3 separate regions of the Homo sapiens genome follow, and regions 1 and 3 are each reported to be linked to region 2. Evidence: microRNA targets listed by miRTarBase, many of them from high-throughput screens and not tested one by one. Region 2 holds a microRNA gene; each other region holds the end of a gene's coding sequence.

What was found. Region 2 holds the annotated microRNA hsa-miR-4755-3p (AGCCAGGCUCUGAAGGGAAAGU, at 1,951-1,972, shown strand). A microRNA usually pairs through its seed, bases 2 to 8, with sites in the 3' UTR of a target mRNA and lowers its output. Matches are read on the target gene's strand: a 7mer-m8 pairs with bases 2 to 8, a 7mer-A1 pairs with bases 2 to 7 and ends in A, and an 8mer does both.
Region 1: the mRNA of DMXL1 is a reported target of hsa-miR-4755-3p. The part of its 3' UTR that is shown has no 7-base or 8-base seed match.
Region 3: the mRNA of APOL2 is a reported target of hsa-miR-4755-3p. Seed matches in the 3' UTR shown: 7mer-m8 at 1,105-1,111.

The regions. Positions count from the first base shown.
Region 1 is chr5:119,246,868-119,250,127 of GRCh38, reverse strand. DMXL1 (Dmx like 1) reads right to left here. Exons shown (of 44, transcript NM_001290321.3): 44 at 1,001-3,133. The coding sequence ends at 2,909. Among named protein-coding and RNA genes, the nearest start is that of MIR5706, 94 kb to the right of the region's middle.
Region 2 is chr20:34,047,212-34,050,471 of GRCh38, forward strand. MIR4755 (microRNA 4755) reads left to right here and starts at 1,908; the gene lies at 1,908-1,979. All of the region lies in intron 2 of RALY (RALY heterogeneous nuclear ribonucleoprotein), which reads left to right.
Region 3 is chr22:36,224,886-36,228,145 of GRCh38, reverse strand. APOL2 (apolipoprotein L2) reads left to right here. Exons shown (of 5, transcript NM_030882.4): 5 at 1-1,937. The coding sequence ends at 742. Among named protein-coding and RNA genes, the nearest start is that of APOL2, 13 kb to the left of the region's middle. RefSeq lists an enhancer at 305-983.

The sequences.
Region 1 (3,260 bases), not on the chromosome of region 2:
ACTGAAAGTTATGTGTATTTGATTTTAATTCACACCCAGATAACTTTGCCAGCAATGTTTCTGCCAATTTCCTTGCATCTTCACCAAAATGGATATTGTCACTATTTAACCTTAAACCAATCTGATAAAAACTAGTATTACAGTAATACTTTTTAAAAAACAATCCATTAACCCTTATAATGAAGATGAACACACTTTATATTTGTTGACTTTTTCAATGTCCTGTTCTGTGAATTGCTTATTCACAGTGTGACCACTTCTCCAATAACTTAAACTTCTCTTTGTATACAGGGACACTGACATGTTTCCTATTACTATACAAATATTTCTTCTAGTCTACTTGTTGTTTTAACTTTGACTGTGGTCCCTGCCATATGACATTTAAATTTTTTATTAAGTAAAATATGTCTGTGTTTCCAATCTTGTTAAAAAGATCACTTCCACCCTAAGGTTGTATAGACTTTTCTTTGAATGTGTCTTTGTATTGTGTTTCCATTGTTGGGACCAATGTGAGAAATTTCTGCAATTCTTCTAAAAAATATTTTTTTTTTCAAAGAAGGGAGGGCAAGGGCAAAGAGCAAGAAAGGAGGATGGAGATGACTGGTCCATGGTTTTAGTTAAGAAAAATCCTAGATATCAGAAAATAAGATTTGTTAATGTTGTGAATCCTTATATGATCACAAAGCCACATTCTTAGGAAACACACAATTAAAAAATGTATTTTGATGTATCCACTCCATTAATGTGGATAATGAAATTTTACATATATGTATATCATTTTATATTTAAACATTTCAACAATTTTTATTCCCACCTTCCTTGAATGCTGCTTACCTATCAACTTAAAAAGACGGTAGAAAAGAACAGGGTATTCGGGAAAGTTATTCCATCCTCCTTACATTAACCAAATACAAATATGGAAATTCTTGATTTTAAAATGTCACATATTTTAAGTCAGCTAAATTGGCAACGATATTAAAACAATAGTATACCCCCTAAAAAAGTTTCTGCATGATTGTTTATTTAAAATATTATGACTCTGGATGTAAATACATATGGGCTTACATAATGTATGATTATCCATATAAATGCTCAATTAAAATATTTAGTTCATCCTTAAACACCTTTTGTTCTAATAAGCATAATAGTAAATATTTTATCTCATTGGAAGTGTTTAAAGCTGTTTGAATCTTGATTTGTGAAGAAATTACTGAAAAATAACTTAAGGTTAACTACATCAAACAATACTATTGTTTGCAATGCTGTCAGATTTCTCCATGGCAAAATAGTCGCATATGGTTATTGCACGATTTATAGGTACAGGTTATTATGTGCATATAAACTCTCTACATAATGACAGTGTTTGCACTGCAACTTGCTCAACACATTTAAAATTGTTGAAATACAATTTACAAAATCTTTAACAACATACTTTTAAGATAAAAGTATCCTGAGGATATTACAAAATTCATTTTACCAGCCCTTCATTTCTTTGCTTTGACTCTTTAATTTCCAAGATAATCGTTGCCCATATTTTATTACATAAAATGCTATTATTATATATTTCCTATTAAACAAAATATATTTAAGTTAAATAGTACATAATTGTCCCATAAACACTTAGTCCCATCTGCCTGTAGTCTCATTGGTTAAAATCAAGTATTTATCAAGTTTTCTATAATTCTGAATCAGAAAAGGTACAGCACAAAACAGACAGAAACAGGGTTAGCACATTTAAGTTAAAAGCATTGTGCATTTTAAATATTTTGGTCATATTTTATAATAAAATATTTTGGCAAAAATAAAATATAAGGTTTAGTTTATTTTCTATTAATGGTAGATCTGGAGAGTATTTTACATTTCTAAATAGTATCTACTTAATTTGACTGCTTTCACATTTGTTTCTGAAAACACTGCTATTCGCTTTTCAGAATTTTGAGATTAAAAGCACCTAAAAATAAGATAAAATAAAATTTAAGTAAAATATTTGTTTGATGCTCGAAAGTTGACAAATTCACAAACTTACTTTAAGTGTCTTACATGATATATGCCACCACAGAAACTTTATTGCCTGCTAAGACTTATTTGACTAAATCTAATCTTTAAAATAATAATCCTGATAGTCTCCTTGAAACTTATTTGAAAATTAGGATGGGAATTCAAAAATTTTTTAAAAATGAAAAGCACAGTTGCAAAAAAAAAGTTATTCTGGTGGCAATAGTTGTTATGGCACAAAAACACATGAAAAACCAGTTTTCGCTAATATATACAACTAAGTTCAAATAAGATGTGTAAGATACACACACACACACACACACACACGTATACATACATACAACTTGGGTTCCGGAGGGTAAACTACTGAAAACCTTACATATTGAGCCATCTAGCTCATTTATCACTGACGTCTCAATGACAATTTTAATGAAGATGTTCATTATTTTTTTCATTCTTACTCAAATACCTATCATTAATTAAGAGAAGAGTTTGAGATGTATAAGGCTAATAAAGGAAGTGAGAGTGTGGTGAATTAAGTGATGAGTATTATGTACAATTGCCTTTACAAAAAACGTATTTTTACTGTGGAAGAAATTCATGCAGAGATGCCTGTGGAAAAGTATCAATAAGAAAACAAAACACCTTTAACACTATGACATACTGATTATAATATACTATGATATGTATTATTACAGCATTACTTACACATTCTACTTTAGGCAATGTAATCTACTTCTGAATGACCTTGTTAATTTTTAAGGCATCAGTGCATCAAGGGCAAAGCTCCATAAAATAAATATAAAAACAAGAAAGCATTAGCTAATTTGTGGCATAGAGAATGATCACTGTATATTATATCTGTTGGCCACTTCCATATAGGTAATAAATTGTACATCTTATTGTAAAAATGTTATAGCATAAATTTCACATCATTTTTCAACACTTCATTTAAAGGGCTAAACTGATCTGGCAGTATTCTCATTTTCATTGTTCCATCAGCTCCACAGGAGAAAATGTGATTTGCAGGCCCTGTCTCAATTTGCATCACTCCAGTTCCAATATTTCTAAAAATGGACTGCCGAGCATGTTCACTGACAAAAGTATGGAGAAGACCAAAGGTAGAGAGACTCCAAATCTGAAAGATATTAAGAACAAACGGAAAATTAGGGTTGATGATGACCTTAAGAAATCAAATGAGGCCAGGTGCGGTGGCTCATGCCTGTAATCCCAGCACTTTGGGAGGTCAAGGCAGGCAGACCACC
Region 2 (3,260 bases):
GGAAAATGTGTCTTTGTTGAATACAGAGCAGTAGTACCTGGGCTGGCCCTGTGTGACTTAGAGCGGACAGTATGGGAGGTGGAGAACTGGGTGCATGGGAGCCATTAGATCAAGAATTGGAAATTCCTCACAAATAAAAGGTTTCTGGGGTAGGAGCAGGGGGCAGTGTTGATGGTGACTCTGCTTGGATTATCTTCTAGGGATGGAGGATTGCCAGCTCCATTGAATGGAAGGACTGGTGATGCGCAGCCACTCTTGCATGTGCCCGGGCAAAAGACAGTGTGTTGGTGGCAAATGCCTAATGTGTCTATGGCTGACCATGGGCCATCTCTGCCATTCAAGACATCAGCTCCTGGCAGAGTTGTATTGGTTTGATAGAGCTTTAGTCTTCGGAGTCGCACAGACCTGAGTTCAAATCCTTCTCTGCCATTTACTGTAATAATTGTGTTCCTTAGGCTGATCCTTTAGCTCTCAGATCCTCTTTTTCCTTTTCTCTAAAATGATGTGGTTGATATCTGCTTTTGAGGTTGTGAGGATTTAAAATAACAGGTAAATAGGTGCCACACAGTACCAGATACTTAGTTGGGTGAGTAGCCTGGTGATCTGTGGCTGTTAGCTCTTTGAAGGCCAGTATCCCTAGGAGATAGCAGCAACGTCAGCACTGCTCTGATTCCCTGACCAACCCCCAACCCCACCTTTGCCCTCAGAAATACCCTGGACCCTTGTTTCCTTCCTCAAGTTCAGACCCCAGAAATGTTGGGCAAGAAGGAGCCTCCAGGCCAGGCTTTATTGTGCCAGATGTTATATCTGAGTAAGCAGGATTGTTACACAGCAGAGATACAGGAGCAGAGCAGGTAGCTCAGGCAGCTGCTGATGAACAAAAGGCTTCTTCTCTCTGTTCCCAATAAATTGGTCCTTGGGGATCCTAGCTTTGAAATTCTAATTGACACAGGAAGGAAAAGATTCATTAGGCTCTGGACTCGTTAAAATGCTCTGCTGCTCACCTACGATTTATTCTTGGCACTTCATCAAGAGGAATTAAGTAAACCAATGGGCTGGGAGGCTCCTGACAGCAGAGTCGTGTGTCTCTCGTGCTCCTGGGGGGATGAGAGTGTTGGGTCTCCTATGCTATGGAGCATATAGCTGGCTTTGGAATCTCCTCATCCCTAGGACTTCACATGAGTCTAAGTCTCATATGCTTTTAACAATGGAGGGACCTTCTGAGATCATACTGTGTAACTCATTTATAGATGGTCCAAAGAAGAACTGGGACTTGCTCAAGATCACGAAACGCATTAGTAGTGGAGTTAGAATTAGAATCAGTCAGGCTGCATGACTTCCAGGTCAAGAATATTTTCTCTGCGGCCGGGCGTGGTGGCTCACGCCTGTAATCCCAGCACTTTGGGAGGCTGAGGCAGGTGGATCACGAGGTCAGGAGATCAAGACCATCCTGGCTAACACGGTGAAACTCCATCTCCACTAAAAATACAAAAAATTAGCCGGGCGTGGTGGCGGGCGCCTGTAGTCCCAGCTACTCGGGAAGCTGAGGCAGGAGAATGGCGTGAACCCTGGAGGCAGAGCTTGCAGTGAGCCGAGATCGCACCACTGCACTCTAGCCTGGGAGACAGCGAGACTCCGTCTCAAAAAAAAAAAAAAAAAATTTTCTCTGCATCACCTTTGGATTTCTACACCCAGTGTTTCATTCATTCAGCCTTCAACAGATACTTTTAACACATTCTGTGTGCCAGGACTCTGTGATAAACAAAACAGCCATGGAGGAAAGTAAATACCTGACCCAGTATTAGGAGAGATTAGAAAGGCCTCCAAGTCTGAGAGATGGATAGGAATTAGCTCAGCAAGGAGAGATGAGGAAGGTTATGGCTGAGGAACTGGCATCTATGAAAGCCAGATTCAGCTTTCCCTTCAGAGCCTGGCTTTGGCATCTATGAAAGCCAGGCTCTGAAGGGAAAGTTGAATCTTGCTAGAGTGGAGAATTGAGGAAGAGATGAGATGTTAAGGCAAGCCGAGTCTATGAGGTTTGGGCCACTGTATGGTTGTAAAGAACCCTGGATCTGGGATTAGGAGTCCTGAGTTCTAGATATGTTTCTGCTACCAATATGTTAGTCATCATTCTAGTAACACTTCACATCTTTTAGGTGTGCCATGATGGGCACTGGGGTACAAAAATGTGTAAGATGTATGTAGTCCCCTCCCTCAGAGATCTGTCAGTTTAATGAGGCAAGCAGGCTAATTAAGAACCCCTGTAGTAAAGGAACAGTTACCTCTGCTGTAAGAAGTCAGAATTGAGCTGTGTGTTACTTTAAGCACTTTCTCTGGGCTTTGATGATCTCACCTGTCAAATGGTAAATAACCACTGTCCTATGTAGCTGGTAAACTGATGAGAAGACAGACAACTTTGTAATGATTGGCGTTTGTTTGGCATTTTGTGGATTTCAAAACACTTTTGACATCATTAATTCATTGAACCTTAACTGCAATCTTATGACTTAGGAAATTTCCCCACAATGTACAGATGAGGAAACTGAGAGAGGTTGAGGCTTGTTCATAGTTTCACAGCTTTTGATTAACAAAAGTTAGGATTATAAATCCAAATCCCGTGCTCTTATTTTGAAAAGTATAAAGATGGCAACCTTTCTTTCTATCCCCTACTTAGTGGCAAATTATCCCCTTCCCCTTTTCACAGTCACCAGAAATGCAGAGAATGTCTGCTGTGTTTGAAAAGCAGATCTAAGCTGACTGGGGAGAAAGAAAGGAGCTTATTTCAGGTCTTCTTCAGGCTGGACTCTAAACTTTTAAGATCATGTGCGCCCGTGCTCCCATCAGCTCCTGCTGTTCCATCTCATGCCATTTACAGAGTGCCATTTACTGAGCCACTACTTCATTGGCTACTCATAGCAACTTGTGGGGTAGACAAAGTGCACTTTACAGATGGGCAAACTGAGGTCCAGAGTCCCTGAATTGTACATGTCAGAACCAGGATTGAATCTAGAAGTCTTGGGCTCCTGACACCAAACAGGTGCTCTTAACTTGCAGAATGTAGGTTCCTTTGATTCAGTTCGGTTCAAACAATTCTTGAATATAACCCATGTGCCAGAGACTTTGCTATGCAAGAGAGCCTCTAGTTAGGCTCAAACCGTCTTGGTCTAGTGCCTTACTTAAGAACAGGGACTTGTATTATTTACTTCTCTGTCCCCAGGCAGGACCTTGATCCAAAAATGCTTTGCTGTTGTTTTTGGCCT
Region 3 (3,260 bases), not on the chromosome of region 2:
GCTTGAGGATCACATAAGGAAGCTCCGTGCCCTTGCAGAGGAGGTTGAGCAGGTCCACAGAGGCACCACCATTGCCAATGTGGTGTCCAACTCTGTTGGCACTACCTCTGGCATCCTGACCCTCCTCGGCCTGGGTCTGGCACCCTTCACAGAAGGAATCAGTTTTGTGCTCTTGGACACTGGCATGGGTCTGGGAGCAGCAGCTGCTGTGGCTGGGATTACCTGCAGTGTGGTAGAACTAGTAAACAAATTGCGGGCACGAGCCCAAGCCCGCAACTTGGACCAAAGCGGCACCAATGTAGCAAAGGTGATGAAGGAGTTTGTGGGTGGGAACACACCCAATGTTCTTACCTTAGTTGACAATTGGTACCAAGTCACACAAGGGATTGGGAGGAACATCCGTGCCATCAGACGAGCCAGAGCCAACCCTCAGTTAGGAGCGTATGCCCCACCCCCGCATGTCATTGGGCGAATCTCAGCTGAAGGCGGTGAACAGGTTGAGAGGGTTGTTGAAGGCCCCGCCCAGGCAATGAGCAGAGGAACCATGATCGTGGGTGCAGCCACTGGAGGCATCTTGCTTCTGCTGGATGTGGTCAGCCTTGCATATGAGTCAAAGCACTTGCTTGAGGGGGCAAAGTCAGAGTCAGCTGAGGAGCTGAAGAAGCGGGCTCAGGAGCTGGAGGGGAAGCTCAACTTTCTCACCAAGATCCATGAGATGCTGCAGCCAGGCCAAGACCAATGACCCCAGAGCAGTGCAGCCACCAGGGCAGAAATGCCGGGCACAGGCCAGGACAAAATGCAGACTTTTTTTTTTTTTTTTTTTTTTTTTTGAGATGGAGTCTCGCTCTATCGCCCAGGATGGAGTGCAGTGGCTCAATCTCGGCTCACTGCAAACTCCGCCTCCCGGGTTCACACCATTCTCCGGCCTCAGTCTCCCGAGTAGCTGGGACTACAGGCACCTGCCACCACGCCCGGCTAATTTTTTTGTATTTTCACTGGAGACGGGGTTTCACTGTGTTAGCCACGATGGTCTCCATCTCCTGACCTCGTGATCTGCCCACCTCGGCCTCCCAAAGTGCTGGGATTACAGGCGTGAGCCACCGCGCCTGGCCAAAATGCAGACATTTTATTAGGGGGATAAGGAGGGCAAGGTAAAGCTTATGGAACTGAGTGTTAGTGACTTTGGCATTTGTGTAGCTGAGCACAGCAAGGGAGGGGTTAATGCAGATGGCAAGTGCACCAAGGAGAAGGCAGGAACACTGGAGCCTGCAATAAGGGAGGAGAGAGGACTGGAGAGTGTGGGGAATGGGAAGAAGTAGTTTACTTTGGACTAAAGAATATATTGGGCGAAGAATAGAGGGGGAGCTTGCAGGAACCAGCAATGAGAAGGCCAGGAAAAGAAAGAGCTGAAAATGGAGAAAACCAGAGTTAGAACTGTTGGATACAGGAGAAGAAACAGCAGCTCCACTACCGACCCCCCCCCAGGTTTGATGTCCTTCCAAGAATAAAGTCTTTCCCTGGTGATGGTCTCTCGCTCTGTCTTTCCAGCATCCACTCTCCCTTGTCCTTCTGGGGGTGTATCACAGTCAGCCAGTGGCTTCTTCATGATGGTGGTTGGGGTGGTTGTCATGTGACGGGTCCCCTCCAGGTTACTAAAGGGTGCATGTCCCCTGCTTGAACCCTGAGAGGCAGGTGGTAGGCCATGGCCACAATCCCCAGCTGAGGAGCAGGTGTCCCTGAGAACCCAAACTTCCCAGAGAGTATCTGAGAACCAACCAATGAAAACAGTCCCATCGCTCTTAGCCGGTAAGTAAACAGTCAGAAGATTAGCATGAAAGCAGTTTAGCATTGGGAGGAAGCACAGATCTCTAGAGCTGTCCTGTCGCTGCCCAGGATTGACCTGTGTGTAAGTCCCAATAAACTCACCTACTCACCAAGCTGGACTTGTTCGAGTCATTCTTTGGTCTCTCAGCTCCTTCTAAGCTTTGGGGGCCATCAGTCTCAAGTTTTTCTCGTAATGGTGGTGATGGTGGTTGTGATGGCAGCAGAGTGGTGGGGGCCTTGGCAAGTGGTCGGTGCTCTTCCAGACCAGGGGACACCGATGGACCGATGAAGTTCCAGGGGAACTTGAAGTGCTGTGTTGGAAAGAGGTTAATTTGGGAAGAAAGGAAAAATGAAAGGAGATGCCAGGAACAGGTCAAGGAAGCTTGAGGTGTGTCCAGGAGTTCAACCCTGCTTGTGGTCATGAGACTTCACCCCTCTGAGCCTCAGTTTCCTCATCAGCTGTAGAAGGGGGCTGGAAAAGGTGATATCTCAGGTCCACCTTGCTCTCCCCATCTTGTGTTCTGGAGACTTGAGTCAATCAGCACTGACTGATGGCTGTGACTTTGTGGTGCCGATGGAGGCTCCCCTGGGCTCTGGGTGCCTGACTTAACCTTCCTCATGATCCTTCTTCCAGGGTCTCAGGGAGCGAAGTTTCAAGACCCCTTCTGCTCGCTCACTGGACTCTCACTTTCCCAGCTGGTCATTTCCCTGAGACCTCAAAACCCCAAGCCCATTGGGGCACTCGGGGAAAGCTTGTACATGTCTGGCTCTGGCTGAGCACAGGTGTGGTTTCCATCTGTGAGTCAGAGCCCGGGATTGACACGGGACACTCGAGGCTAACTAGTGTCAGAGGGGCCTGTGTGCAGATTGGGAGAGGATCAGCGAAAAATAGAGGGACAAAGAGAGACATCCAGACAGCAAACACTCCCATCCAGTCTGTCCTCACGTTTTGCCCAGACTCCTGCAAGAACTTCCAGAATGGTCTTCTCTGTGCCCCTGCCCCTGTCCCTCCCATGTCCTGGACCATGCTCCACACTGGGCCAGGTTGGGCTTTAACAATATAGTTTCTTTTTTTTTTTCAGATACTCTCACTCTGTTGCAAGGCTGGCAAACCGTGGCACAATCATGGCTCACCACATCTTGGACCTCCCGGCCTCAAACTATCCTTCCACCTTGACTCCCTGAGCAATTGGGACCATCCGTGTGTACCCCAATGCCTCGTTAATTTTTGTATTTTTTTTTTTTTTTGTAGAGACAGGGTTTCCCTATCTTGCCCAGGCTGGTCTCAAACTCCTGAGCTCAGGTGATCTGTTCACCCTGGCCTTCCAATGGACTGCAATTGCAGGCATGAGCCACCATGCCCACCTAAGAACATAGGTTTGATTGAGCACCTGCTTCCAACCCTCTAATGGCTTCCCATTACTCTTAGCACAAAG